Regions from separate parts of the Homo sapiens genome. Here all the other regions are reported to be linked to region 1. Evidence: microRNA targets listed by miRTarBase, many of them from high-throughput screens and not tested one by one. Region 1 holds a microRNA gene; each other region holds the end of a gene's coding sequence. Distances are from middle to middle.
The links. The annotated mature microRNA hsa-miR-330-5p reads UCUCUGGGCCUGUGUCUUAGGC and lies in region 1 at 2,897-2,918, opposite strand. An mRNA with a match to its seed (bases 2 to 7 or 8) in the 3' UTR can be bound and repressed. Matches are read on the target gene's strand: a 7mer-m8 pairs with bases 2 to 8, a 7mer-A1 pairs with bases 2 to 7 and ends in A, and an 8mer does both.

Region 1 (4,984 bases):
TGGTAAAGATGCAGTCTCGCCATGCTGCCCAGGCTGGTCTCAAATTCCTGGGCTAAAGCAGTCCACTTGTCTTGGCCTCCTAAAGTGCTGGGATTACAGGCATGAGCCAATGCACCCAGCCTGCCTGGCTAATTAAAAAGAAATTTTCTGTAGAGATGGGATCTCGCTTTGTTGCCCAAGCTGATAGTTATCTGGTTTATTTGTTAACTGCTCATATTCCCCAATAAGACTGTGAGTTCCATGGTGGCTGAGATTGGGCTGTTTTTTTTGTTTGTTTGTTTTGTTTTTTTCATTTCTGTATCTCCTCCTCCAGGAAGCCCTCCATGACTCCAGGCTGGGTCAGCCCTGTCCCTGTGGATTCCCCATCCCAGTCTTGCACACTCTGGGTTGTCACTCTCAATGAGTCTGTTCCCATGCTAGACTGTATGCCCCAGGAGGGCAGGCAGATGCTGTCATGGTCAGCACTGGGTCCCCAGCCCTATGTCTCAGATGTTCAGAAAATATCTTGAATGGGCCAAGCACGGTGGCTCACGCCTGTAATCTCAGCACTTTGGGAGGCCGAGGCAGGTGGATCACTTGAGGTCAGGAGTCCAAGACCAGCCTGGCCAACATGGCGAAACCCTGTCTCTACTAAAAAACACACAAAAAAATTAGCCAGGCATGGTGGCCCATGCCACCCAGCTACTGTAGTGGCCGAGGCAGAAGAATGGCTTGAACCCAGGAGGTGGAGGTTGCAGTGAGCCAAGATCGTGCCACTGCACTCTAGCCTGGGTGTCTCAAAAACAAGAAAATATCTGAATGATTGTCAATATACATATATCCTGACCCCATGAAACTGCTCTGACCTGCAGTCACTGCAAAGGGGAGCAATCTGAGGTCCTCACTTTTGCAGTCTCAGCCACCTCTCATCAGATGCTTATCAAGCCCTACTGGCAGGACATTTGGGACAGATTCCAGGGGATATTTCCAGCTGCCTCGAGAAGGCTCTGGGCACCCAGAAGGCCAGGCCATTTCACCAACCACCCTGGCTCCTCCAAAGAGGAAACCAAGGCCCAGAGAGAAGCAGACAAGGACCGGGTTCCTGGGGTGTGGACTCCAAGCTCAATAGGATTTTAGGAAAAAGTTTGGGTCCCAGAATCAGGATTGTTGTCTCCTACCTATAACCTCAGTTTCCTTATCTGGAAAGGAGGTATAATAATTTCCAAACTGTAGGCCTCAGAGCTCTTGGAGGCCACTAGTTGTAAAAAAATAAATTCATACCTGGAATAACTTACAACAGTGTCTGTCAGATAGTAAGTGCTTGAGTTATTATTTTGGATTTTTTTTTTTTTTTTTTTTTTTTTGAGAAAGGAGTCTCGCTCTGTCGCCCAGGCTGGAGTGCAATAGCACAATCATGGCTCACTGCAACCTCGACCTCCCAGGCTCAAGTGATGCTCCCACCTCAGCCTCCAGAGTAGCTGGGAACCACAGGAGCATGCCACCATGGCTGGCTATTTTTTTTTTCTTTTTCTTTTCTTTTTTTTTTTTTTTTTTTTTTTTTTGAGACGGAGTTTCACTCTTGTGGCCCAGGCCGGAAAGCAGTGGGGCAATCTCGGCTCACTGCAGCCTCTGCCTCCTGGGTTCAAGCGATTCTCCTGTCTCAGTCTCCCGAGTAGCTAGGTTTACAGGCACATGCCACCACACTCGGCTAATTTTTGTATTTTTAGTAGAGACAGGATTTCATCATATTGGTCAGGCTGGTCTCAAACTCCTGACCTCAGGTGATCTGCCCACCTCGGCCTCCCAAAGTGCTCAGATTACAGGCATGAGCCACCGCGCCCGGCCTGCTATTTTATTTCCTGTAAAGACGAGGTCTTGCTATGTTGCTCAGGCTGGTTTCAAACTCCTGGGTTCAAGTGATCCACCCACCTCGGCCTCCCAATGTGCTGAGTTAGTGTTTTATCAGTCCCTGTGCATGGGGCACATACTATGAGCTCAGTACCTTTACACATTATTTCACAGGTCTATGGACCTGAGATCATAAAATTCATTTTTCAGAGTCAAGACGACTTTTCCAGGGTCACACGGCCAGGTACGGGCTGGACTGGGGTTTGAACCCATCTCTGTCAGACTCCAGAGCCCGGGCTTCCAGCCATTCCCAACTCTTTTTGCTCAAATGCACCAATCCCACTCTGGCCACATAGCCCTTGAACGTGCTGTGCTTGTTTTGTGTGTTGCCCAGGCAGGTCTCAAACTCTTGGCCTCAAACGATCCTCCCAAAGTGCTGAGATTACAGGCCTGAGCTGCCTTGACCGCCTTTCTATTTCCTCCTGGGGGGATGGGAGCACCAAGGAGATTCCAGCAAAAGGATACACCCACTCCAGCTTGAGCCGGCAAGAAGGCAGCTCCGAGCGTGTGTCCAGGCTGTAGGTGGGTGCCAGCTCGTCTGGGATCATCATGGGCACAGGGCGGCCCCTCAGGAACATTTTCACGGAGCCATCCTCTGCCAGGACACCCCCAGAGGTCAGGCACTGACACCAGCCCCATCCCTATTCCCTCTCCTCTTCCAGCTTTATTTATTTATTTTTTTAAAGGCAGGGAAACTGAGGCCAGAGAGGCAAAGACCCAGTAGCCAAGACTCCTGACCTCTGGCTCCAGCCTGTCACCCCAACAAGCAAGCTTCCACCGAGCCCTTCCCCATCTCCCCACTCACCCACACTGAAGATAACTTCTTTGGTTTTGCTGTCAGGAAAGGACAAAGAAAAAAAAAGGGTCTTAGTATTCAGTTCAGAAAAGGGGAGAAACCATTCCTCCACCCCCACCGCTCCCCGGAGGTCTCCGATGAAAACGGGGCCGAGTAAGGGGCAGAGCGCTGCCTCTCTGCAGGCCGTGTGCTTTGCTCGGTTGATCTTGCAGAGCCTAAGACACAGGCCCAGAGAGGCAGTGATCGCCAAAGATCACACAGCACGAAGTGGCAGGGACGCGATCCTGGAAGAAGGGAGTCACCAAGGACCCTTCCCTCCTAATCAGCAAGGTGCTCCCCAGCGCCCCCCACCCGCAGTTCCCCCAGCACACCAAACGTCAAGCAGAGGGAGAAACGGGGAGAGTTTAAGGGAAGGGGCGTGTCCCCACGCCGGTCTGGGTCCCAGGGGTTGGGTGAAACCTGAGATCTAAGCCCCGGGAGCGCGGAGAGGAGATGGGGGGTGGTCTGCGAAAGGGTCTCACCCAGCTCCAAAGCTACTCATGGCGGCGGGTGGCGGAGCTTCGGGGCCGGGGGTGGAGCCGGGACCGGCTCTGCCGCTTCCGGCCCTGGGAGGCGCCCGGGCCGCCGCGCCCCTGCCCCGCCCTCCACAGCCACCCCTGGAGCCGGAGGGTCCCACCGGGTCACACATCCCGGGCTGTGGACTCCCGATCCCAGGTTCTTTCGGGGTGGGTGGGGGAGAGTGGTTGAGAACATGGACTCGGGAGCGCGCCTGCTTGAGTTAAAACCCCAGTTCTGCTAATTCCTAGCAGTGTACACAGGTCGTCCAACCTCTGCCTCGGTTTCCTCATTTAAAAAATGGGGATAATAAGAGTACCCGGCCGGGCGCGGTGGCTCATGCCTGTAATCCCAGCACTTTGGGAGGCCGAGGCGGGCAGATCACCTGAGGTCAGGAGTTCAAGACCAGCCTGGCCAACGTGGTGAAACCCCGTCTCTACTAAAAATACAAAACTTAGCCTGGCGTGGTGGCTGGCGCCTGTAATCCCAGCTACTTGGGAGGCTGAGGCAGGAAAATCATTCGAACTCGGGAGGCAGAGGTTACAGTGAGCTGAGATTGTGTCATTGCACTCCAGCCTGGGCAACGAGAACAAGACTCCGTCTCAAAATAAATAAATAAATAAGAGTACTCACACCTCCCGGGGGTAGTTGCGAGGGTGAAATTGGTTAATTATTGGGAAGTGCCTGGAGTATACACAACGCTGTATTTGTGTTTGCTATGTTTGAGCAGAGTTGAAATGTGCAGCTTTTGACCTTGGTCTTGCCCTTGCGTGGCCTCCTAGCGCTGACCACGCCCACTGCACCATAACTCCAGCCTTAGGGTGATTTTTGTTTTGTTTTGTTTTTGATACAGGGTGTGGCTCTGTCGACCAAACTGGAGTGCAATGGCGTGATCATGGCTCACTGAAACCTCGAATTTCCTAGGCTTAAGTGAGCCTCCTGCCGCAGCCTCCCAAGTAGCTGGGTCTACAAGCGAAGGCCAGCACGCCCGGCTATTTTCTTTCTCTCTCTTTTTTTTTTTGTTTTTTGTTTTTTGTTTTTTGTTTGTTTGTTTAACGGAGTCTTGCTCTGTCAGCAGGCTGGAGTGCAGTGGCGCGATCTCAGCTCACTGCAACCTCCGCCTCCCGGGTTGAAGTGATTCTCCTGCCTCAGCCTCCCGAGTAGCTGGGACTACAGGCACGCGCCACCACGCCCATTTTTGTATTATTAATAGACAGGGGGTTTCACCATGTTGGCCAGGATGGTCTCGATCTCTTGACCTTGTGATCCACCCGCCTAGGCCTCCCGAAGTGCTGGGATTACAGGCGTGAGCCACCGCGCCAGGCCTAATTTATTTTCATTTTTAGTAAAGACGAGGGCTCGCTATTTTGCCCAGCCTGGTCTCGAACTCCTGAGCTCAAGCGATGATTCCCGCCTCCGCCTCCCAAACTGCTAGAATTATATAGCCTTAGTTTTTGACTCTGTCCAGATCTTCAGTATGGCCCCGCCTCTGGAGTTGACCACGCCTGTCATTCTGAGCCTCCCTTCTAACCCTGTCCCTGAGTTGACTCAGTTGCTTGAGAATTGACTGCTACCTCCCGCCAACGCTCCTTCTCCGGCCCGCCAGGCATTCTGATTACGTCCATTTTCACGTATTCCTTATGTGAATACCTTCGAGGCCTCCAAGTTGGCTGCACCTCTTGGCATTTGACCACGCCCCTACGGCCCCGCCCAACCTTTAAGCCACGCCCTTTTCAACCTGGCAGT
Region 2 (6,444 bases), not on the chromosome of region 1:
GTGCAGTGGTGCAGTCTTGGCTCACTGCCACCTCTGCCTCCCAGGTTCAAGTGATCCACATGTCTCAGCCTCCTGAATAGTTGGGACTACAGGTGCCTGCCACCACACCTGGCTAATTTTTGTATTTTTATTTTATTTTTTTTTAATATTTATTTACTTTTTGAGACAGGGTCTCACTCTGTTGCCCAGGCTGGAGTGCAGTGGCGCGATCTCAGCTCACTGCAACCTCCACCTCCCAGGTTCAAGTGATTCTCCTGCCTCAGCCTCCCGAGTAGCTGGAACTACAGGCGCACACCACCATACCCTGTTTATTTTTGTATTTTTTGTAGAGACAGGGTTTTGCCATGTTGGCCAGGCTGCTCGTGAACTCCTGACCTCAAGTGATTCACCCACTTTGGCCTCCCAAAGTGCTGGGATTACCGGCGTGAGCCACCGCACCTGGCCAATTTTTGTATTTTTCGTAGAGATGGGGCTTCGCCATGCTGACCAGGCTGGTCTCCAACTCCTGACTGCATGTGATCTGCCAGTCTCGGCCTCCCAAAGTGCTGGGATTACGGGTGTGAGCCACCACGCCCTGCCACTTTGTCTCTAATAAACCCTCACCATAGCACTTCATCATAAGTAAGCTGGTCCCCCAGCTCAGAGAGGTGCAGGGGTTGTCCGAGGTCCACTGTGGGGTGGTGGCAAAGTGGGGATTTGAACCGCAGCCCCGGTGCTATTTCTCCCTCAGCTTGTGCTCTGGACCTGGGAAGAGGTGTCTAGACCAGCCTTAGCAAGGGTTTGGGGAGGGGCTTGTTACAAAGCCCAGCCTGACATCACCCTCCCCATCCGCCTCCCCTCAAGACGAGGAGGCCGCCGGGCGAATGGGTCCAGGGTGTCTGGAAGGGATTGTTTTTGGGGGGCCCTGAGGTCTGCCCAACCCTGCCTGGCCAGCCCCATGCCTCGCTCTGGCTGGTGCACCAGCACACCAAGGAGGGAGTGCAATTCACATCAGCCTCGGGGATTCTTCTCTCGCTCCTTTTGAAGGTTTCCTAGTAACTTGCTGTTCACAAGCGCATCCGGAGAGCTCTGGAAGATGGTCCGGATTGGAGGACAGCCCCTGGGGTTTGGTGAGTCCTGGGGGGATTACATGGGGAATTGAGGGAGCTGGCATTGCTGAGCCCATTCACATACGTTGTCCGCAGTGACTCGGCCCCTGCTGGGGGGTACAGATGGGGAGACTGAGGCTTGGGGAGCCTGAAATTTCTGTTGCTCACTGGTGTGTGGCAGCTGTACACAGGCCTCTTGGGGAAGTGCGGAGCAGGCTTCAATCGGAGTGCTTTTATTTTGCCCCCTCTTGAAATTTAATATGTTGCTTATTATTAGAAAATTAAGCAGCTGGGCGCGGTGGCTCGTGCTTGTAATCCCAGCACTTTGGGAGGCCGAGGTGGAAAGATCCATTGAGCCCAGGAGTTCTGTACCAGCCTGGGAAACATAGCGAGGCCCTGTCTCTACCAAAATTTTTAAAATTAGCTGGGCATGGTGGCTGGCGCCTGTAATCCCAGCTACTCAGGAGGCTGAGGCAGGAGGATTACTTGAGCCTAAGAGTTCAAGGCTACAGTGAGCCATGATCATGCCATTGTACTCCAACCTGGGTGACAGAGCAAATCTTTGCCTCTAAAAATAAAAAAAGAGGCTGGGCGAGTTAGCTCGTGCCTGTAATCCCAGGTCTTTGGGAGGCCGATGCAGGTGGATCACCTGAGGTCAGGAGTACCAGCCTGGCCAATATGACGAAACCCCATGTCTACTAACAATACAAAAAATTGGCCAGGCACAGTGGCGTGCGCCTGTAATCCCAGCTACTCAGGAGGCTGAGATGGGAGAATCGCTTGAACCCAGGAAGCAGAGGTTGCGATGAGCCAAGATCGCTCCATTGCACTCCTGCCTGGGCAACAGAGCAAGACTCTGTCTCAAAAAATAATAATAAATTTAATTTAAAAAAGAATAAATTGGGGCTGTGATAAAAATTAAAGAGAAAAAAAATCACTCCTTATTTCCACAGCTCAAAGATAATAACTGCTGGCAATTTTTTAACATGTTTTCTTCACGTAAATACATGTAATTGTCACATATCTCCCAGAGAGTCTGACACCCAACACTTTACTCCTAAATGCCTCGCCTTTTCCATCCTGGGAAGAAGCACCGGGCAAGGTGGCTTACGCCTGTAATCCCAGCACTTTGGGAGGCCGAGGCAGGAGGATCACAAGGTCAGGAGATCGAGATCATCCTGGCTAACACAGCAAAACCCTGTCTCTACTAAAAATACAAAAAATTAGCCGGTCGTGGTGGCAGGCGCCTGTAGTCCCAGCTACTTGGGAGGCTGAGGCAGGAGAATGGCATGAACCTGGGAGGCGGAGCTTGCAGCAAGCCGAGATGGCGCCACTGCACTCCAGCCTGGGCGACAGAGCGAGAGTCCACCTCAAAAAAAGAAAAAAAAAAGAAGAAACACTTTCTCCTATATAACCACAATGACAGGATTCCACAGGAGAAAATTTTCAGTCATTCCCTAAGACTTAGTCTTTCCTCTGTTTCCACAGTTGTCCAGACAACGTCTTTGGTGGATAGCATTTTTTTTTTCTTTTTGTTTTTTGTTTTTTTTTTTTTTGAGACCGGATCTTGCTCTGTTGCCCAGGCTGAAGTGCAATGGCGCAGTCTTCGCCTCCTGGGTTCAGCCTCCCAAGTAGCTGGGACTATAGGCACGTGCCACCACGCCCGGCTAATTCTTGTAGTTTTAGTAGAGATGGGGTTTCACCATGTTGGCCAGGCTGGTCTCGAACTCCTGACCTCAAGTGATCCACCCGCCTCGGCCTCCCAAAGTGCTGGGATTACAGGCGTGAGCCACCACTCCCAGCCAAGGTGCCACACTTTTAAATAGCCAGATCTCGTGAGGACTTACTGTCACGAGAACAGTACCAAGAGGATGAGGCTAAACCATTCATGAGGAATCCACCCTCATAATCCAGTCATCTTGCACCAGGCCCCACCTCCAATACTTGAGATTACAATTGGAGGATTTGGGCAGGAACACAAAGCCAAACTATTTCACTGGCCAGCGACCAGAGAAGGCTCCTGGTTGGGGGACATCTGGGTTAAGCCTTCAAGAGGGATGGCCAGTGGGAGGCCAGGCACGGTGGCTCACGCCTGTAATTCCAGCACTTTGGGATGTGGAGGTGGGTGGATCATTTGAGTACAGCAGTTCGATACCAGCCTGGCCAACATGGTGAAACCCCATCTCTACTAAAAATACAAAAAAATTAGCTGGGCATGGTGGTACACGCCTATAATCCCAGCTATTTGGGAGGCTGAGGCACGAGGATTGCTTGAACTCAGGAGGTGGAGGTTGTAGTGAAGTGAGCTCACGCCAGTGCACTCCAGCCTGGGCGATGGAGCGAGACTCCATCTCAAAAAAAATAAAAGGGATAGCAGATGGGAATTCTCTAGGAGGATGGTGGGTGCAGGGTAGGCATTGCCCACAGAGGGTAGAGGCTGAAGAGCCACACAGGCAAGGGTAGCCAGGTTACACAGAGGCTAAGGACGGTCTCTCCTGTTCTAGATGAGTGTGGCATCGTGGCCCAGATCTCAGAGCCCTTGGCTGCTGCAGACATCCCAGCCTACTACATCAGTACTTTCAAGTTTGATCATGCACTTGTGAGTGTCCAGCGCCAGACCCCTCCAGGGCAGGGCCGGGGTGGGGAAGCAGGTTCCTGGGCTCACGGGCAGGCATCTGCCTCCTCTACCCCTGCACAGGTCCCCGAAGAGAACATCAATGGTGTCATCAGTGCCCTGAAGGTCAGCCAAGCAGAGAAGCACTAGAAGGGTCTCTTCTGCTCCTCCCTGCCGCCGCCCGGGCCCAGCCCTAACCCTGAAGATTGATCTTGCAGTATTTCTCTACAGACTGGAAAATCAGCCTGGGGACCCTGAGGAAGGGGCCTCTGTGGGAGACTCCCTCGATTGCCAATCCCTCCAGGGCAGGGGCCCACGCCAAGGCCTCTCCATGCCCTCCTGCCTTCCCGGAGCCCCCCGACCCTCCAGAGAACGACCTTTCTCTTCCCTACCTCCCCCACCCCGGAAAATGCTTTCGGAGGCCCAGGGAGCTTGTGAGCTGATCCGCCTTCTCATCCGGCCTCACCCACGGCCAGGGGCAGATGCCGAGGGAAGCCGGTCCCTCCTGCGAGACACCGGTGTGCCAGCTGTCATGTCACCTTGCAGGGCTGGGGCTGGCGGGGTGGGGCCGAGTTTGGGGTGCCCTGGAGGGTTTGGGGGTGAGTACTGTGGTCACTGGTCTCTGCTTCCATCAGCTCAGGGCTGGTTCCCTCGGAGTGGAGGCCAGCGTGGCCCCCTCAGGTCATCGGGGCTGGTGAGGCTCAGACAGGAACCCAGGTGGGATCCCCGAGCTGGGAAGGACCCAGACTCCCCCTGTACCTCGCCTGCCAACCACAGGGCCTGGGCCCGACTCCCAGCAAGACTGCCAAGAGGGCCCTGTCCAGACCCTCCCCCACAAGCACTCAGTCCTTGGGGGAGGAGGGAGGGTCCCAGGAGACCCACCAGCCTGGAGCACCAGCTCCTGTCCCCTCGGCTCTCCCTGGACCCGACTTGGGCAGGTAGAGCCTCAGCTTCCCCCAGTAGGGACATCCCTGGCTTTCCAGGCCTGAGGTTTCTTAGGTGGTGTCCCACCTCCCCAACAGACAACTAGACCAGCATAGGACTCCCCGCCGTCCTCCTCCCTCCTCTGCCCCCAAGTCACCTGCCTGCCCACCCGCCCCTTGGCTGGGGGCTGTGGCATTCATGAGTACTTGACCCAGGAGGCAGCTTAACTGAGCCTTAATAGAGAAAACCATACTTTGTTTTAGTTTTTTATTTAATGTATTTGCACCCAGGGTGCTCTTGGCGGTAGTTTCTGTTTGGCAGGGATAGGACCTGTTTGAGTTCTGTCAAGGGAGCCTGGAGGCTCTGTGTCACTAAGCTGGTGCTCTGTGGCTCCAGGGACAGGCAGTGGGAATCGGGAGATGTCACAGGAGCCTGGGCCCTCTCTTCTGAAGGGAAGCTAGGAGCAGAGATCTGTTACAAGACGCTGGAGCCGCTGGCACCCCACATGGGAACTCCCACCAACCAGCTGTAGTTCTATCTGAGCACCGGAGGGGGTGAGGGAACCCGAGGGCCATGGGGAGGTGGACAGCCAGGTGGCAGGCCAGCTGAGTGGTCATGTCCAGGAGGCATGGGGTTAGCCGTGGTGTCCCTTCCAGTGGGGTGGTTTTCTGAATGAGCAGGACCAAGGGCCCCTGTGGTTTTGGCTCTGGCGGGGGTTTTTTTTTTTTTTTTTGAGATGGGAGTCTGGCTCTGTTGCCTAGGCTGGAATGCAGTGGCACGATCTTGGCTCACTACACCCTCCTCCTCCCAGGTTCAAGTGATTCTCCTGCCTCGGCCTCCCAAGTAGCTGGGATTACAGGCACGCACCACCACGTCTGGCTAGTTATTGTATTTTTTAATAGAGACGGGATTTCGTAACATTGCTCAGGCTGGTCTTGAACTCCTGAGTTAAGTGATCCGCCTGCCTCGGCCTCCCAAAATGCCGGGATTACAGGCGTGAGCCACCACACCCAGCCGAGTTGTGCTGTTTCTGTGGTCAGAGGAGAAGGGATATTTTCTAGTCCTGACAAAGTGTTCCCTGCTTCTCTGAGTGGGACCCTCTGAGCCCTGGAAGCCCACCAGAAGGAGAAGCTGTTCTTTAAAATCCTTGTGGGTGTTGAAGGCCCACCACATTAATTAGAAACCAACTTTTTTTTTTTTAAGTTAATTTGTTTTGCACAAAACTCCAGAACAAAACTCGTACATTGCTGGTCCCAAAAGGGAGGTGGCCAAGTGGGGCAGGGCTGTGGTGGAAGCCCTGAGTCCCCTTTCTGACCTTGCAAGGCCTTGATTTTCCTTTCTGTCATTTCCCCCTGACGGTGTCACTTCTCTGCCTTTCCTTCCCGCCGTGCAAGTGTGTCGGCCCCGTGACCCCAGAGTCGTGTGTCCCCTAGACTTCCTAGGACGTATCTATTGTACACACCTATAAATACCTGTGTTTTATGTTGATAGAGATATATACTGTAAATAGCATATATACTTGAGCAATATATATGTTAATATATACTGTGTGCGCAGTCCGTGGACACAGCCCCCCGCTGTGTGTGCACACGTGTATGGGCGTGATGGCCTCCACCCCGCACCGTCTGCCATACACGCGGGCACATTTGAGCCACCATATATTTTTAATTCAAGTATATAGGCAATACGATTATTACAGAAGCCGATGGGTTCCCTCAGACCTGACTTGAGAGAACAAAGCCAGCAGCTCAAAGAGCCTGTGACATGGGACGTGGGAAGGGTGCTGAGAGCCCGCTGTGGCGTGGGTCATGCCTTCTG
Region 3 (6,444 bases), not on the chromosome of region 1:
ACATGGAAAATATACTATTAAGTGGAAAAAAGCATGTTTTAAAATTGATTAGAGACATGTAAAAAGTGCTCAGGAATGAAACTGGTAGAAAGCATTCCTGGATATGGATGTGGGAGGCAGGAAAGTGACTTTATTTTGATGTCTCCTCTAATATCATCACATTAATAATTGTAAACATAAATTTTTAAATTCTGAAGGTAAAGACTTCTCCAATCCTTAAAGCTCCACCTGTTGGCACGAGTGGAGTGTATACACAAGTGTACAAGTGAAAGGAAGTGAGAGATAGTTTTGTTTTGCTAAACTTATTCCTCTGAGAGCTATGCCATAATGGTGGCAAATAGTGAATCAATAAGGATAGTTGCAAGGAAAAAACATATAGTAATTTTTGTTAAACTTAGGACTAAAAGACTCAACGAATGTATGTGAGTAACCAATTTCTTTTATGCCTCTCTAAGTCAAATATGTTCTTTTGGATGGACAGAAAAAACACATTTACTATCAAGACCATGTTTCCCAAGGGTTGCCACTATCAATGCAGAGGTACAGTCAAAGCCTCACACCAGGAAGCTAATGGGTCCAGCAAGCCCCAAGCATCTCCAGTGGAAGGCACGTCTCCAAATGTTGCATATCTATGCTCACCATTCATGAGCTGTCAGAAGACACATCTCACGTCTGTCCTGTTTCTTGCTATAGCTAGCACCAAATATTTGCTCAGAAATCTTGGTTAAGTGCATGAGCAATGCGGTGGGATCAGCATCCTTTACCTTCTAAAGAACAGAGTTTCTTTCTCTACCAGTTCCTGACTATGGTGGAGGCTGCTTGGTCACGTGCTCTTCCTAAGCACACTGGAAGCTCACACACTTCCCAGTCCCTTTGTGGACAGGTGGAACAATGTGACCAGATCCAGCCCATAAAAAGAGGCTGAAAGTGATGTGTGCTACTTCCTGGATCAGGCATTTGAGTGGGTGAAACACTTCCAAGCTCTCAGCGTTGACCTTGAGATTCATGTGTTGAGATGACAGCATCACCAGATGGAGCAACCCAGACTCCCGAGTCAACAGGTCTAGGACACCTCACAGACATTCACAGGGAATGTGTGTAAGAATCAAATCTCTATGGTGTTAAGCCAGAGATTTCAGGATTTGCCTTGTTGCACCCCCTACCATGACTTATATAGCAATAAATTCCATTTCTTTTACATAAACAAAGTGAGAATATGGATTAGACATGAACTCAGTAAAAGCACTGTTCATAAAATATTTCATGGAGACCATGAGAGAACAGCTGTATCGCAGTGAAGTCCATTAAGTCACTTTCTCTCCTTTCTGAAAACATACAGGATAAACTTCTCAACCTGCAGTCCTTAGAAAAGGTTGAGTATCTCTTGAGTATTCGAATATAAAATGTACTCAGAATGCGATCTTATTGATTGATAGGGATGGGGAGGAGGAAGGGTTAGAACCAAGTTTTTAGAATGAACACTGAACAAATGATTCAGGAACCATACTTCTAACACTGGTAGAGGCAGATAGTGTAACTCAGCTTTGAGTTAATAATTAATGCTGTTGGTTTTAATTTACTTTTCTTCTAGGTTTCAGGACTATTAATTTTTCCATTGATTTATAACAGGGTAGCTCAAAGAATAAGTTAATGGTGATAATTATGGCTGCAGGATGTTCAGTAAGATAGTTTGTGGCGCAGGCTTTCATAAGCAAGGACGGCAACATTGAAATAGATCCTGTGCAGTGGGTGTGACTTGGCAGTTAGCTTAAAATGACTGTGCTTGTGGATTCAGGGTCCCAGATGATGTTTAATCACGGGTGCTTCCTCCTTCTGAAGTTCACACATCACTTTGATTCACATTTTTGATGGAAAATATTCCTTCCCTAAAACTCCCTCAGTTGGTGATGAATACCTGATGCAGAAATATTAACATTTGAAAATCCCAGCTCAACCTCAACCTCACCTCAGCTTTACCTTTGCTTTCCATACCTGTGTAGATTCAATGACTTAAAATATCTCGTGTACAAGCATTGAAAGGTAGTGCTATAATATTTCTAGATTTCATATCTGTAGTCATATCTGTAAATGATTTACAACAGATGCACATAGACACATGTGAAAAAAATTCTTTATTAATTTCTCACATTTCATTACAAAATGTATGTTGCAAACAACTTGAATAACCTACTTGTGGTTTTTTTTGTTTTTGTTTTGTTTTTAAACCCTTGGCTTCAAGGACTCAGGGTCTCCCTATCTCTTATGAAGTATTGGGAAACACTGATTACTGGAGTCAATAGGTTATCATTTTGCTATTTATTTTCTTCTCTCAAGCTCTGAAAAAAATGTCCTCTGTATAAATTAAACAACAACAAAAAATGTTGTAAATTCTATGTCATTACAGTCAACAGAATTATAATAATGCATCCAAAATGTGCGGCCACAAAATATCAGGTATATGTTTGAAAAAGAAAAAAATGACATTCTAGCCTTGTTAAAAGGATAATGGTCCCATATTTTTATTAACAGGTTAGCAAAACAAAATCCAATGGATTACAATATTTACATGTTATTTGAAAAATAAAGTAGTGATAAAAGCATGTCACAATTATTTTCTTTTTTTTTTTCCTTTTTCTTTCTTTTTTTGTTTGTTTTTTGGTAACCATTACAAACACCCAATCCAGGTATGGAACTGTTTAATACATTTGAAATGAGGCCAATTAAAAACAAATATAGACACAAAATGAATCTTTGTCTGGATAGTTCACACTTTCCCCATTTTCTGGTTTCCACATGATGGCCCCCATCCCTTAAAAAAATTAAATTAAAACAAACATCCTACAAATAAAAATTCTTAACAGTAAGAAAATAAAAGAAGAACATGCTTTTCAAGTAAGCACTTATTCCACAAATGCAACATCTTTCCATGGATTTTATTTGAAGCTGTGTGGGACACTGTCATCTCAGCAATTCCCCTTCCCTTTCTTCCCTCCCACCCTCCCACAACCCTTCCAAGTAAAAAAAAAAAAAAAAAAACATGAAAACCAAAGGATTCACACGTGCACACATGCACACACACACTCATACACGCACACACACATCCAAGCACACACACACACGGGCTTCTAAAACCTAGGCTTCAAGAAAAGTTCTTTTCTATTTTTTGGAACGAAACCCTTTGTTCACAATCAGAACATATTATAAATGTAGGCTTAGATTTAGTCTAAGCTGCTCCCTCCTGAAAAAGCTGATATGGGGGACAGAGCAGCTGGCAGCTAGATTTAAAAAAAAAAAAAAAAAAAAAAAAAGAAAGAAAGAAAGTAGTTCTCCAGGCTCCTTGTAGGATATGTTATTTCTTGTCCACTCTCACGAAAGGGATGGGATTCTAGTACATCCCCTCGTCCCCTAAATAAATGAAAACCCCCAACAAAACACAATGCCAGCAGAAACAAAACACAGATTTTAAAATCACACACAAAAGCCAGCCAATCCTAACAGAAATTATTTATGAGACGGATAATGCGTGAATTTGACAGGCAACAAAAGGGTGAGGAGGACCTCCTCGTCTGGCCCACAAGCTGCATAGCTGTGCCGAAAGTTTGGTTCTTTAGTTAAATTAAAAAAAAAAAAAAAAAAAAAAAAGAAAGTTAACTTCTTTGTTATTTCCATGTTTAAAATAAAAACATTCCTATTCACAAAAAACTAAATCTCCCTTGCCCCGAAATTAAAACAACAATAACAACACACACACGAAAAACAATTCATATGAAAAACTGAATTGTGCTGTGTTTGTAACACTCAAATTGATAGAAAATAAACATGTGGCAAACAAAACTCCACAATCACCTTAAAATTAGCTCACATGAATCTACCAAATTCTAAATTATAGTTGAACACTAATAAACAGCTTACCTGGAATAAAGGATGACAATTCACAAACAGTTATCTAATAATTAAAGTCTGTTTCTTTTTTTTGTTTTGTTTTTTACTAAAATAATTAAAAAAATCACAGTATTTTAAGAAATAAAACCCACATGGGGATTTTAAGCACAATTTGTGTTCCTTTCTTTAAAACTCTTTTTTTTTCTCCATTCACCATCTTGCCCAGCAGTTCTCTCTACATTTAACCACAACGACGACAGGTAGTACTGACAAATGCAGAGAGTTCCCTTGGTTAAGTTTGAGGTACTAGGAAACAGGTGACTGTTTTATGCAAAGCAGTTTTTTTTTTTTTGTTTTCTGTTTTTTGTTTTTTGTTTTTTTTTCCCAAAGCGGCTGCAGTTAGGTCTTGAAAAAGCTTAAGGTATTAAAACTAGAAAAACGCACCAAAAGTTGTGCGTCAAAAAGTTGCTCCCCAATGAGAAGTCTTCTACCGTCATGGAGCTTCTGTTTCCACATACTGTCCAAGACCACCACAGGGTGCACCGTACCATTGGGAGGTGCTTCCATATTCCGCAACAAATGAAACTTCCATGATGAAGATCCGGAAGAAAAGATGTAGTGATGGAAAAGGAGCCACATATTCCAACCATTTAAATAACTTTAATTTACATACTCACTCACACAGGTACCAGTGCTTTGAAAATAGATTGTTCAGTCCTAAAAAGCAGCTTTGTTCTGTCTTCTCTTTTCTGTCCCTCCCTTCTCAGCCCAAGCCAGCCCTCCCACTTTTTCATCACTGTTCAAGTAAGGTTTGATTAAGAATTTCACCAAACGCTCATTCTTTTTTGGCCTCTGCATTCTCCAGGAGAGATTTGTCGGCAGTTACTACACAGATGGCTACTGTTTCATTCTTTAGGGAAAAGTCTATCCCAATGGCCTCGTCATCTTCCTTTTCCTCTATGGAGGGCATTTTAACACTGTTCTCCATGATCTCTTTTGGGTGGATTTCTTCTCTGCTCACCTGCTTGGTGTCATTCAATGCCCTGGAAAAACATTTATCGAAGAGACAGATGAGTATAGTATATATATTTCTCTTTTTAAACAAAAAAATAATAAAAACCCTCGAGTGTCTTTATTTTCCTGATCCTCAAAAAGCCTTGGGGTTTCCTTTGAACAAATGCCATGGGTGTATGACAAAATACCAAGTGATGCATCCCTGCTATGTTTTGCTTAAGTCATATATTTCTGTATCTTAAAGATTTGAACTTACAGAAGTATCCATTATTATACTATATATTGATTATCCCATGTTTTCTTTCTAGATAAGCATAATCATTTTATGTCACTTTCTCTACTGGGTCATAAGTGGTAACAGCAAGAATTGTCTTATGCTCAGAGTCATCGGCTGAACCCAGAAGCTTGGAGATTGGTTATATTTATGAAGTCTAAAAGAGTAACTCAGGTACTAAAGATTTATTTGTCAGGTCCCGAAACAAATCACGAAAACAAACTAAAAACAAAAACCTGAAGATGGAACCCATGTCTCGGGAAGCTTGGTTATATTCTCTGAGGTCTAGACCCTTGAGGCTTCAGGGACCAAGCTTCAGGCTTCCTATCACCACACAAGCCATGTTTCCTCCTGAAAAGACCACATCCTAGGTTCTCTCTGCATCTGGTGGACTAACGTGCCTTGTTGAGGGGCTGATTTTATGTTCAGGGATCTCATAAGTATTTTACAAGTATGCTCTCACCTACCTGGGAGGCAGGCAGAAGCTGGCTCTGTCCCCGAGGCAGTACATGGGAATGTTCAGGGCCACTCAGGGAATGATCAGTCAGAGAGGCAGGAACAGAAGCCAGATCTTTTGACCTCGATTCACGTTCTATTATAGAATGTCACGCTAATGAAGACTAAAGGGATATTGGCTGGAGAAAACACTATACTTCTGCACACAGGCTTGAGCAGGACTGATCATTCATAAAGACGATTTTTTTCCCTATTTGACTTGCGGCTGGGTGACCATTTTAAAAAACAACAGAAAAGGAGAAACTTGGTTCCTCACCATTGCCTCTCCTCCCACGGCCCAGAAATGTGACACAGAGGGGTGTACATACTGTCAGGGGAACCAAAACAAGAGCCCCTCCCTCCCTCCCTACCTCTTGCTTTGGACAAAGGCATCCTTGAAGTGGCCCAACTTACATGCCGTGTCTCAGCACATGTCTTTCCCACTCAGAGCCCTGTGAAAACGCCCGTCCACAAAATTCACATGGAAAACGCTTCTCAGTGTTAAGAGCAGCCCCGTGGTCAGAAAATCTCATCAGCTCTGCAAAGAGAAAGCAGAAGTGTTACCTGTGTGCTGTGGGAATCAGCAGAATAGGTAAGTCAGCATTCATTAGGATACCCTCTCTCCTACCTTCACTGATAAAGCCATGTGGTGAAAGCAATTTCCAGATTCCTCACTTTTTCTTAGGTTTCCCCCTTAGGGCATTCCTTGAATAGCATTCGAGAACTGTTTCTGGTTCTTGGGCCCCAAGACCTCATTTCGCCTCACCTCCCCAATGCTT
Region 4 (6,444 bases), not on the chromosome of region 1:
CCAGATCCATCAAAAGAATCACTATCTATGGCAGCTATGCCCTTATAAAGTACATTTTTTAATAAGACTTAAAGGTTGAAATTACTCCTTGATCTATGGAGTGCAGAATATATGTTGTGTTAGCAGGCATGAAAACAACATTCAGCTCCTCCTAAATCTCCATCAGAGCTCTTAAGTGATGAGGTGTATTGTCAATGTACAGTAATATTTTGAAAAGGATTTTTTTTCTGAGCAGGTCTCAAAAGTGGGCTTAAAATAACAGCAAACCATGCTATAAACAGATGTGCTATCATCCATTGTTGTACCATTTATAGAATGCAGGCAGAGTAGATTTAGCATGATTTTTAAGGGCCCTAGGATCCAGGGAATGGTAAATGAGCACTGGCTTCAGCTTAACATCACCAGCTGCATTGGCCCCTAAAGAGTCAGCCTGTTCTTTGAAGCTTTAGCCAGGCATTGATGTATCCTCTCTAGCTATAAATTGCATCTTCTAATAGAAGGCTGTTTGTTTACACTAAAAATCTGTGGTTTAGTGTAGCCTCCTTTATCAATTATCTTAGCTAGGTCATCTGGAGAACTAGCTGCAACTTCTGCATCAGCACTTGCTGTTTCAATTTGCACTTTTCTATTACAGAGACGGCTTCTTTCCTTAAGCCGCATGAACCAAAACTGCTCACTTACTTTTCTTCTGCAGCTTCCTCACCTCTCAGCCTTCATGGAATTGAAAATTAGGATCTTGCTCTGGATTGGGCTTTGACTTAAGGGAATGTTGTGGCTGGTTTGATCTTCTAACCAGACTACTCAAACTTTCTCTATATCAGCAATACGGCTATTTCACTGTCTTAATCATTCATGTGTTCAATGGAGTAGCACTTTTAATTTTCTTCAAGAAAGAAAATTAAAATTTACATTTATTCTCAATTTGGCTGTTTGGCACCAGTAGCCTAGCTTTCAGCCTGCCTTGGCTTTTGACCTGCCTTACTCACTAAGCTGAATCACTTTGAACTTTTCATTTAAAATAAGAGATGTGTGAGTCTCTTCCTTTCATTTGAACACTCAGAGGCCATTGCAGGGTTATTAATTGGCCTAATTTCAATATTGTTTTGTCTCAGGGAATAGAAAGGATCAGAGAGAGAGAGAGAAAGAGAGAGAGAGATGAGGGAACAGCCAGTCGGTGGAGCAGTCAGAACTCACATATTTATCAATTAAGCCCACTGTCTTAAATGGGCATGGTTCATAGCACCTTAATTATGACAGTAACATTGAAGATCACTGATCACAGATCACCATAAGATACATAATAATGAAAACTTAAAATATTGCAAGGATTACCAAAATGTGACAAACAGATAAAGAGTGAGCACATGCTATTGGAAAAATGGTGCTGATACACTGACTCAATGCAGGGTTGCCACAAACTTATGATTTGTTTAAAAAAATTTTTTTTTAATTGTTTGCAAAGTACAATAAAACAAGGTGTGTCAGCATGTACAAAGGAGATTAGATCTTTGTTGTATGAACTGTAAATGTTTTCCCGTTTGTCATTTAAATTGTCTTGGTGGTGATTTTCCCTCCCTCCCTCCCTCCCTCCCGTCTTCCCTTCCTCCCTTCCTCCCTCCCTTCCTTCCTTTCCTCCCTCCCTCCCGTCTTCCCTTCCTCCCTTCCTCCCTCCCTCCCTTCCTTCCTTCCTTTCCTCCTTCCCTCCTTCAGGCTCTCTGCAGCCTTGTGCTCCTGTGCTCAAACAATTCTCTCACCTCAGTCTCCCAAATAGCTGAGACCAGAGACGTGTGCCACCACATCCAGCTAATTTTTTGTTTGGTTTTTTAAAAAATAAAAATGGGGTTTTGCCATGTTGTCCATGCTGGTCTCAAACTCCTGTGCTCAAGCAATCCACCCACCTTGGCCTCCCAAAGTGCTGGAATTACAGGCATGAGCCACTGTGCCTGGCCTGCCTTCCATGTAGTTTTTGATTTTTAGGAAATCAAAAATAATCATCTTTTCTCCTATGGCTTCTGGATTTTGGGTGATAGAAAGGCCTCACACTTCAAGATCATTATGGCAGACATGGAACTGCACCACTTAGATCCCCTTTCAAGAAAATACTCAGTTCCAAGCTGTGAAAATGTGGGTTGCTGACAGCCTTCCAACTCTTAATCTCCTTCAGGTTTTGCCTCAGCTTTCCAGCCAAGCCAAGCTCTTCTCCAGAAGACACTTAGCCAATAATTGAGTAAGGAAGGTGGTGGCACAGGGCCCAGGCACTTCTGTCTCACAAAGGGCTCTTTGCAGGAACTCTTTGCCTCAGAGTTCCACATGATACTGGCAAAGATTTGGTCAGGTCTGCAGTGCAATCTGATGACACCCCTTGCCCAATCCTGCCTTCTACCTGTTCCATTCAATAAACCTGTTGCATCCCTAACTCCATCTCAGCATCTGCTTCCCAGAGAATCTAGAAGGTGCAGGTATGATGAAATCCCTCCATGCTTCTTTCTCATATGTTTATGATTTTATTTTTAAGTTTAAATGTTTCATTTTGAGAGTTACCTGATACATGAGGTATAGAAAAAGCCTTATATTTTCCTAGATGGCTCCCCAACTGTCTTCACACCATTTGTTAGAAAAAAATGCTATCTTTACCCAGCAAATTAAGACCTACCTTTAACATATACTAAATTTCCAAATGATTTGTTTCCATATCTGAACTTGCTGTTTTGTCTGTCTATTCATGCCACAGTATTATACTGTTTCAGCTATTCAGGATATGTAGTCTAATCTGTGTAAAGAATAGAAGAATAGTGCTCCCTCACTACTCTCAAGTTTTACTAACAATCCTTCCTTTTTTGCATGATGTTTACAATCAGCTTATCTAGTTCCACAAAAATTTGTCTCCCAATAAACTCACAGAGAGCTGGGAAGAAGGTCACTAAGTAAATAAATATAGCAAATGTTTTTTGTGGATTTTTATTTTTTTAATTCTTTTATTAATAAATTTTCAGATCCAGACCTACAGAAAATATAGCAAATGTTAAAGCTCACAGGTGGATTTCTCTTAAAGTGTTACTAATAAATAATCCAGGGCTTATATTTAAAGCCAGTGGCCTATTTTCAATAACAGAACAGAGCTCTTTGAAACATATCATCTTCTATGTGAAAAGTATAACCAACTGATTCTCAACTTGCCTCTGCATTAAAATTGCCTATGAGGCCTCTCAAAAAAACAAAAATCCAATATCATGTGTACACATACAGTTTTTAAGATTCCCCTGGTTATTCTGATGAGCATCAACGGTGGTGAAAAGAATATTATCACTATTTTAAAGTTTTCAAAGGAAGATTAGTTCATTTTATTTAAAAAAGCTTATTAATGGCAATTACTTGGCTTTAAAAAAAAAAATGCAACCAGAAGGGCATAAGTACAAAAAGAAAAATGACACCAACTGAAATGGCAGTTTGAAAACAGAAAACTGAAAGGCAAATATTAGAAGAGATCGATAAACTGCTTCTTTCTAGAAAAAATTATTGTCTTTTTTATTTATCTCAAAGAAAGTGACAGACAGTAAATGGGAGGCAAGTTCACAATAGGAAAGAGGAAAGAGAAAGGTAGTACTCTGAATTTTTGCATTAAGTTTTATAATTAGCTTTTCTACTAAGCAAGTAGCACCACAAGCATTGCTTTAATAGATGCCTAAATAAACATGGTGCAAATAAACCAGAGACCCCTTCGATCTTTCCTATATTTAGGAAAAATCATGTACTATGAAGGAAATTCAGTCTATGGTTTGCATTTCTTACTGCCCAAAAGACCAACTGTAAATTCAGTTCTCAACTAACACCACTGTCAATTATTAGCTTAAAAAGAGAGAACATTGTTAAATAAATTTAATAATAAATCTAAACACACATGTACACATAATTCAGGGGGACAGAAATGTTTATTTTTCATTAATCTTTTGAATACAATCATCATAATTTTACAGGTTTAGTTTAGTTGCGAACTTCACTAATAACATTTCCAAGAGTTCACAATTTCAAGGCTAAGCTTCTGATTAAAGTATCATGGTTACAAATGTAATATAAATGGAGTTTTTAAAAAAGGCTAAAAGCACTCTAGCCTCTTAAAAAATATATATAAATGGAAAATGGCCAGGCATTAAACTTAGTAACATTAAGTACACTTTAGTACTACAGCAGTCAAAGAGATCTCCACTAGAGATCAGAAAGAAGCACCACTATTTTCTTCTATGACGTGTATGTGTTGGTCATGAGCATGCTAGTATGAATAAGGCAATGTGTTAAGCACTGGCATACAAATGCAGCTAAAGGTGCTGAAGGAAGGCAGTGGGGTGGTGCAGGCACACAGCAGGGAGCTCTTCCCCGTGACACGTTAGTCATCTTCTCCACAGAGCAGCAGAAGAGCTTTCTTATAGTCCCCAGATGTATCTCCCTGAAACCAAATGTATTCCATTAACCTCCATGACTCACAGAAGCCATAGAAAATTTTAAAACTAAATAACTGGCAACAAATTTTATTCATAAGACTCTTCTCCCAAGTGGGTAATCTCTGTGACTTTCACATCAGGAATGTTATGCAGGGAGTTTCCTACCAATGTAACCTCAGACACTCAGTATTCCCTCTGGTAACACAAAGAATCAGGCAACTTTAACAACTATAGTCAAATCAAGCCTTCTAGACAGAATAGTTTCTATCACTTGGTATATATCAGCTAACACGGGCAGTGCTGGGGCTGCAGGGCTGTCATGGCTCTCCCTCCGAGACAGAAGGGCAGAACATGCTTTGCATCTGCTTGTCTCACATGCAGACATGCATGATAAATTAATGTTTCAAGCTAAAAGTGCATGGGTAAACTCTCTAGTGTCCTTTGGGCCAGCCAAACCACAAACATGCTAAACTAAAAGCTTCTGCTCAATTGAAATCTTGCTTTGCACATGGTCCACATTAACCTTTACTGGAAAAAAAAAAAAAAAGTCAAAAGACTTTAAGCTAAATGTAATTATAGGCCACAGAGCACCTTGTTTTAAAAAGAACAAAAATGATACTAATACCTAGGGGCTCTTTACTCCCAATATGACCTGGTTGGCTCTTTCCTGAATTAGAAACCAGCATCAGAGATAAGGTGATAACAGACGATAAAGAAAGGAAAAGCTGATATGAAATAAAAGAAGGACTAATAAAGACAGCTGGAATTGATAAAAGACAGAAAGAACACATTATTATCATAGGCAAGGGGTTTGGTTTGTTGAGTCATCTGTTACCACTACTAAATAATGCTTCTGAGTTCACCAAGAGCCTCAGCCACATCAATACCCATGCTTTCACTTGGGAGCCATCATCTCTACTTCAGGAAACATTATGCTAAGCTTTTTAACTCATTGCTCTAATCGTGTCACTAAAATTTTAAACTTAACACAAGAATCAGGTTCTCTTATCCTTGTCTTTCATGCAACATACCAGTCTGCTTTGGATTCCCAAACGTAATTTAAAGAAAGGTTCTACTACCTTAATCATGGAATAAAGAGAGGTGGCAAAATTCTTCCTAAACTCCTTCCTGATGTTAAACAGATCAATCTCACTCCTGGAAACCATGACTCTGATGAGGGTATGATCATCTGTCCCAGCTCCCTTTAAAAAAAAAAAAAAAGAGAGAAGCAAAATGCTTAAAAACTTCAAACATAGGATCAAATGCTCCCGGGTGCGGGTGAATCAATAAGGTATAACAATTTAGTAGAACTGGGTTGAATGTTATAAGGGAAAAATTCCCAAGGTCTATCATCTAAAACATAAACAAAAGTGAAGAATAATAATTAGAAAGAGAAATGTATTAGATAGAAGGTTCATGGTCTCCACTTACCTTCATAGCATAATAGAGGGTCTCTGCAAGGTAGGCAGGTATACTTCGAATAGATTTCACTAAGAAAATAAACAATACAATGGTCAAATGCTATTTTGATATGTAAAGGATTAAGTAATTAAAAATCAAGTGCTGCTTCCTGCTTATAGCTCTACTTCTATAAAAACACAAAAGTACCAGAGGCTAAAGAGCTGTAAGCTAATCTGATTTCCTCACTCACCAAGTATTTTCTTAGACACTGGCTTAGGTTTTCCTTGGAGTTCTGAGGTCTGCATAGAAAGGCATGGAGAATAAGGGCACAGGTTTTTCTATGCGCCTTGGTTCTGTGAAGACTTTTTGGATACTGCAGTTTGGGCAGCCTGGATTGTTATCATAATACCACAACATTCTTCATCACCAATAAATTACACAAATCCCTTGGAAGTTTTCATTCCAAGACATTAAAGCAAATAATACAAGATTACTACCTAATTTTTTTAAACTCTTGGGTGATCTTCCTATACTCTCTACATATTCTTTAATATCAATGATTCACACAGAGCAGCATGAGATTTATCCATTTCAGTACAAAAACAGA
Region 5 (3,000 bases), 12 Mb from region 1:
TCCTTCAACATCGGGGAGTTCACACTGGGGAGAGGCCTTATGAGTGCAGTGAATGTGGGAAGTTCTTTCCCTACAGCTCCAGTCTCCGAAAACACCAGAGAGTTCACACTGGATCAAGACCCTATGAGTGCAGTGAATGTGGGAAATCCTTTACTCAAAATTCCGGCCTCATTAAGCACAGGAGGGTTCACACTGGGGAGAAGCCTTATGAGTGCACGGAATGTGGGAAATCCTTTAGCCATAACTCCAGCCTTATTAAACATCAGAGAATTCATAGTCGATAAAAGCCTTATGAGTGGCAAATGTGGAAAATCTGTTAGCACCCTGGAGAAAGTCCTTGAGTACACAGTGAATGTCAGAAAGCTTCAGCTGAAGGCCATATCTCATTGAGTGCCACACAGTTCACAAGGGAAAGACACTTTTGATATGTAGGGATGTCCAGTTGATATAACAGCTCTGAAGGAGATCCCTTATGAGGGTGGCATCAGCCTGAATTGAACATCCTATATCTGAACATCTGCATAAATTCCAGGTATGTGTGAACTGCATTGCACCTTTTGCCCTGCCCAGGGCCCATGTCAGATTTATGTCTCTGCTGATACTATAGTGGAAGCCATTTTACCTCTACTGCCTGGCAGGTGACCACCAGTGTGCACCACTCACCCATCCCAGTGTATTCAGGTAAGTGAACCTTGGTGTTCTGTTCATGGGAGGAATTTGTAAATAGCCTAAGCATTTATTCCGTTTTTTTTTTTTCCTTTCTGATGAGTTAGGCCATGGACCTGACCCAGTTTGGCCCAGAGGACTCTGCTGGTGACCTGAAAAGAGGGACTACATATTTCAGGATATTGTTGGTCTCACATGACTCTTGATAGAGTTTGCCAGCCTTCAAATCACCAACTGTGGGAACCAACTGCCTCTTATTGCCTTGGTTTGTACAATAACAAAGGCCTTATTAATCTTGGGGGTTCTATATGTATGGGTTGGTTTGAAAACAGTTGGGTTCTGCTAACATGAAGGGGTGAATAACTTTTTTTGGAGATCCCAAACATTGTGTAGCTCAACAGGGACAGGGACAGGGACAGTAGGATGGCAGAATATAGCTCTCTCTCTAGTTTGAGCCTAGTTTTCATTGCTATTCAAGGCCTCTGAGAAAAAACTACAGGGTATTGTCCTAATTTATATCCTGGATGCCATAGAGGTCAGCCTGAGGAGGCAGCAGTTACTTGACATCCTTTGATGTTTCTGAAAGCAACATGAAATTGTTCTCTTGTTCACAAGGAATACTGCATCGTGTTCAGTGCCAGTGGGGGAAATCTGTTCCCCAGGTCCTGTATGCCTTGATATCCTGAATTCCACAGGGTAGCACCACAGGTGGTAAGATTATAGTAGGAATTATAATTGTTATAGAAGTACTGGATTGATAGAGAGTGGAAAACTGCAATAACACTGCAATAAATAGAATGTGCCCCTTTTACAGAGGTTTCCATGATGTTCGTTATTATGGCTCTTAAGGATGAGCAGGTACAGAAATCCTCAGGACCTACAGAATTGTGTATCTTGTGTAGCTGAGGTCATTGTCAGAAATTTTATGGAATCCTGTAGCCTCTGGGATTTTCACCTCAAGGTCATTGCTATGCAGGCAGGAAAACAAGGATAGAGAAGGGAGGTCTAGGCCATTGATACAGCCTTTGTGATCCAGCCAACATTTCTGTTGAGTCAGGTGGAAATGGCCTTCACTGTTCACTTGTATTTGTGATCACTGAGGCAAAATCCTCTCCCAGGACATGAGGAGAGAGATGGTGGAATCAACATAGGGTTGTCAAACCTGATTTTCCAAAAACAATAGGAAATTCAGACTTTTATTTTGAACCATATTTTGTTAGGTTGGTGCAAAAGTAACTGTGGTTTTGAACCATGATTTATTTTTATTTTTATTTTTTTTTGAGTCAGAGTCTTGCTCTGTTGCCCAGTCTGGAGGGCAATGGCACTATCTCAGCTCATTGCAACCTCCGCCTCCCAGGTTCAAGCGATTCTTCTGCCTCAGCCTCCCAGGTAGCTGGGATTACAGGCACCCGCCACCACGCCCATCTGAGTTTTGCATTTTTAGTAGACATGGGGTTTCACCATGTTGGCCAGGCTGGTCTTGAACTCCTGACTTCATGTGATCCACCCACCTTGGCCTCCCAAAGTGCTGGGATTTACAGGCATGAGCCACTGCGCCCAGCCAAGCTTTTTCACCATTCCAATTTCCTTCAAATGCTGAACAGCCGTGGAATGGTTGACATTGAGTTCTTAGGCAACTTCTCATGTAGTTGTAAGAGGATCAGCTTCTAATATTGCTCTCAATTGGTCATTGTCAACTTCCAGTGGCTGGCCACTACTTCTCTTCAAGGCTCTTGTCTCCTTTGCAAAACTTCTTGAACCACCACTGCACTGTACATTCGTTAGCAGTTCCTGGGCCAAATGTGTTTATATCGTGAGTTGTCTCTGCTGCTTTACGACCCATTGGGAACTCAAGTAAGAAAATCTCAGCCGGGTGCGGTGGCTCACGCCTGTAATCCCAGCACTTTGGGAGGCTGAAGTAGGTGGATCACAAGGTCAGGAGTTAGAGACCAGCCTGACCAACATATTGAAACCTCATCTCTACTAAAAATACAAAAATTAGCCGGGCGTGGTGGCATGTGCCTGTAGTCCCAGCTACTTGGGAGGCTGAGGCAGGAGAATCACTTGAACCCGGGAGGCAGAAGTCACAGTGAGCCAAGATCACGCCACTGCACTCCAGCCTGGACGACAGACAAAACAAGACTCCGTCTCAAAAAAAAGAGGCCAGATGCGGTGGCTTACACCTGTAATCCCAGCACTTTGGGAGGCCGAGGTGGGTGGATCACAGGTCACGAGTTCGAGACCAGCCTGGCCAACATGGTGAAACCCCGTCTCTACTAAAAATACAAAAATTAGCTGGGCATAGTGGCATGCACCTGTAATCCCAGCTACTGG

Region 2: miRTarBase lists CASTOR2 as a target of hsa-miR-330-5p. Seed matches in the 3' UTR shown: 7mer-A1 at 4,068-4,074 and 7mer-m8 at 6,038-6,044.
Region 3: miRTarBase lists ZNF462 as a target of hsa-miR-330-5p. The part of its 3' UTR that is shown has no 7-base or 8-base seed match.
Region 4: miRTarBase lists ANXA5 as a target of hsa-miR-330-5p. The part of its 3' UTR that is shown has no 7-base or 8-base seed match.
Region 5: miRTarBase lists ZNF154 as a target of hsa-miR-330-5p. Seed matches in the 3' UTR shown: 7mer-m8 at 797-803.

The regions. Positions count from the first base shown.
Region 1 is chr19:45,636,153-45,641,136 of GRCh38, forward strand. It overlaps MIR330 (microRNA 330), which reads right to left and starts at 2,935; the gene lies at 2,842-2,935. It overlaps EML2 (EMAP like 2), which reads right to left and starts at 3,245. Exons shown (of 19, transcript NM_012155.4): 1 at 3,205-3,245; 2 at 2,693-2,721; 3 at 2,353-2,482. The coding sequence starts at 3,224. RefSeq lists enhancers at 2,071-2,922, 2,159-2,453, 2,923-3,774 and silencers at 2,159-2,453, 3,150-3,429, 3,450-3,539.
Region 2 is chr7:75,020,848-75,027,291 of GRCh38, forward strand. CASTOR2 (cytosolic arginine sensor for mTORC1 subunit 2) reads left to right here. Exons shown (of 9, transcript NM_001145064.3): 7 at 1,027-1,109; 8 at 3,593-3,687; 9 at 3,787-6,444. The coding sequence ends at 3,852. It also overlaps a transcript of RCC1L not described here. Among named protein-coding and RNA genes, the nearest start is that of RCC1L, 50 kb to the right of the region's middle.
Region 3 is chr9:107,009,304-107,015,747 of GRCh38, reverse strand. It overlaps ZNF462 (zinc finger protein 462), which reads right to left. Exons shown (of 13, transcript NM_021224.6): 12 at 6,080-6,203; 13 at 2,114-4,925. The coding sequence ends at 4,718. All of the region lies in intron 4 of LOC340512 (a long non-coding RNA gene), which reads left to right. Among named protein-coding and RNA genes, the nearest start is that of ZNF462, 150 kb to the right of the region's middle.
Region 4 is chr4:121,664,087-121,670,530 of GRCh38, forward strand. ANXA5 (annexin A5) reads right to left here. Exons shown (of 13, transcript NM_001154.4): 11 at 5,868-5,926; 12 at 5,516-5,638; 13 at 3,860-4,441. The coding sequence ends at 4,382. Among named protein-coding and RNA genes, the nearest start is that of ANXA5, 30 kb to the right of the region's middle.
Region 5 is chr19:57,698,919-57,701,918 of GRCh38, reverse strand. It overlaps ZNF154 (zinc finger protein 154), which reads left to right. Exons shown (of 3, transcript NM_001085384.3): 3 at 1-3,000. The coding sequence ends at 284. Among named protein-coding and RNA genes, the nearest start is that of ZNF154, 8.8 kb to the left of the region's middle.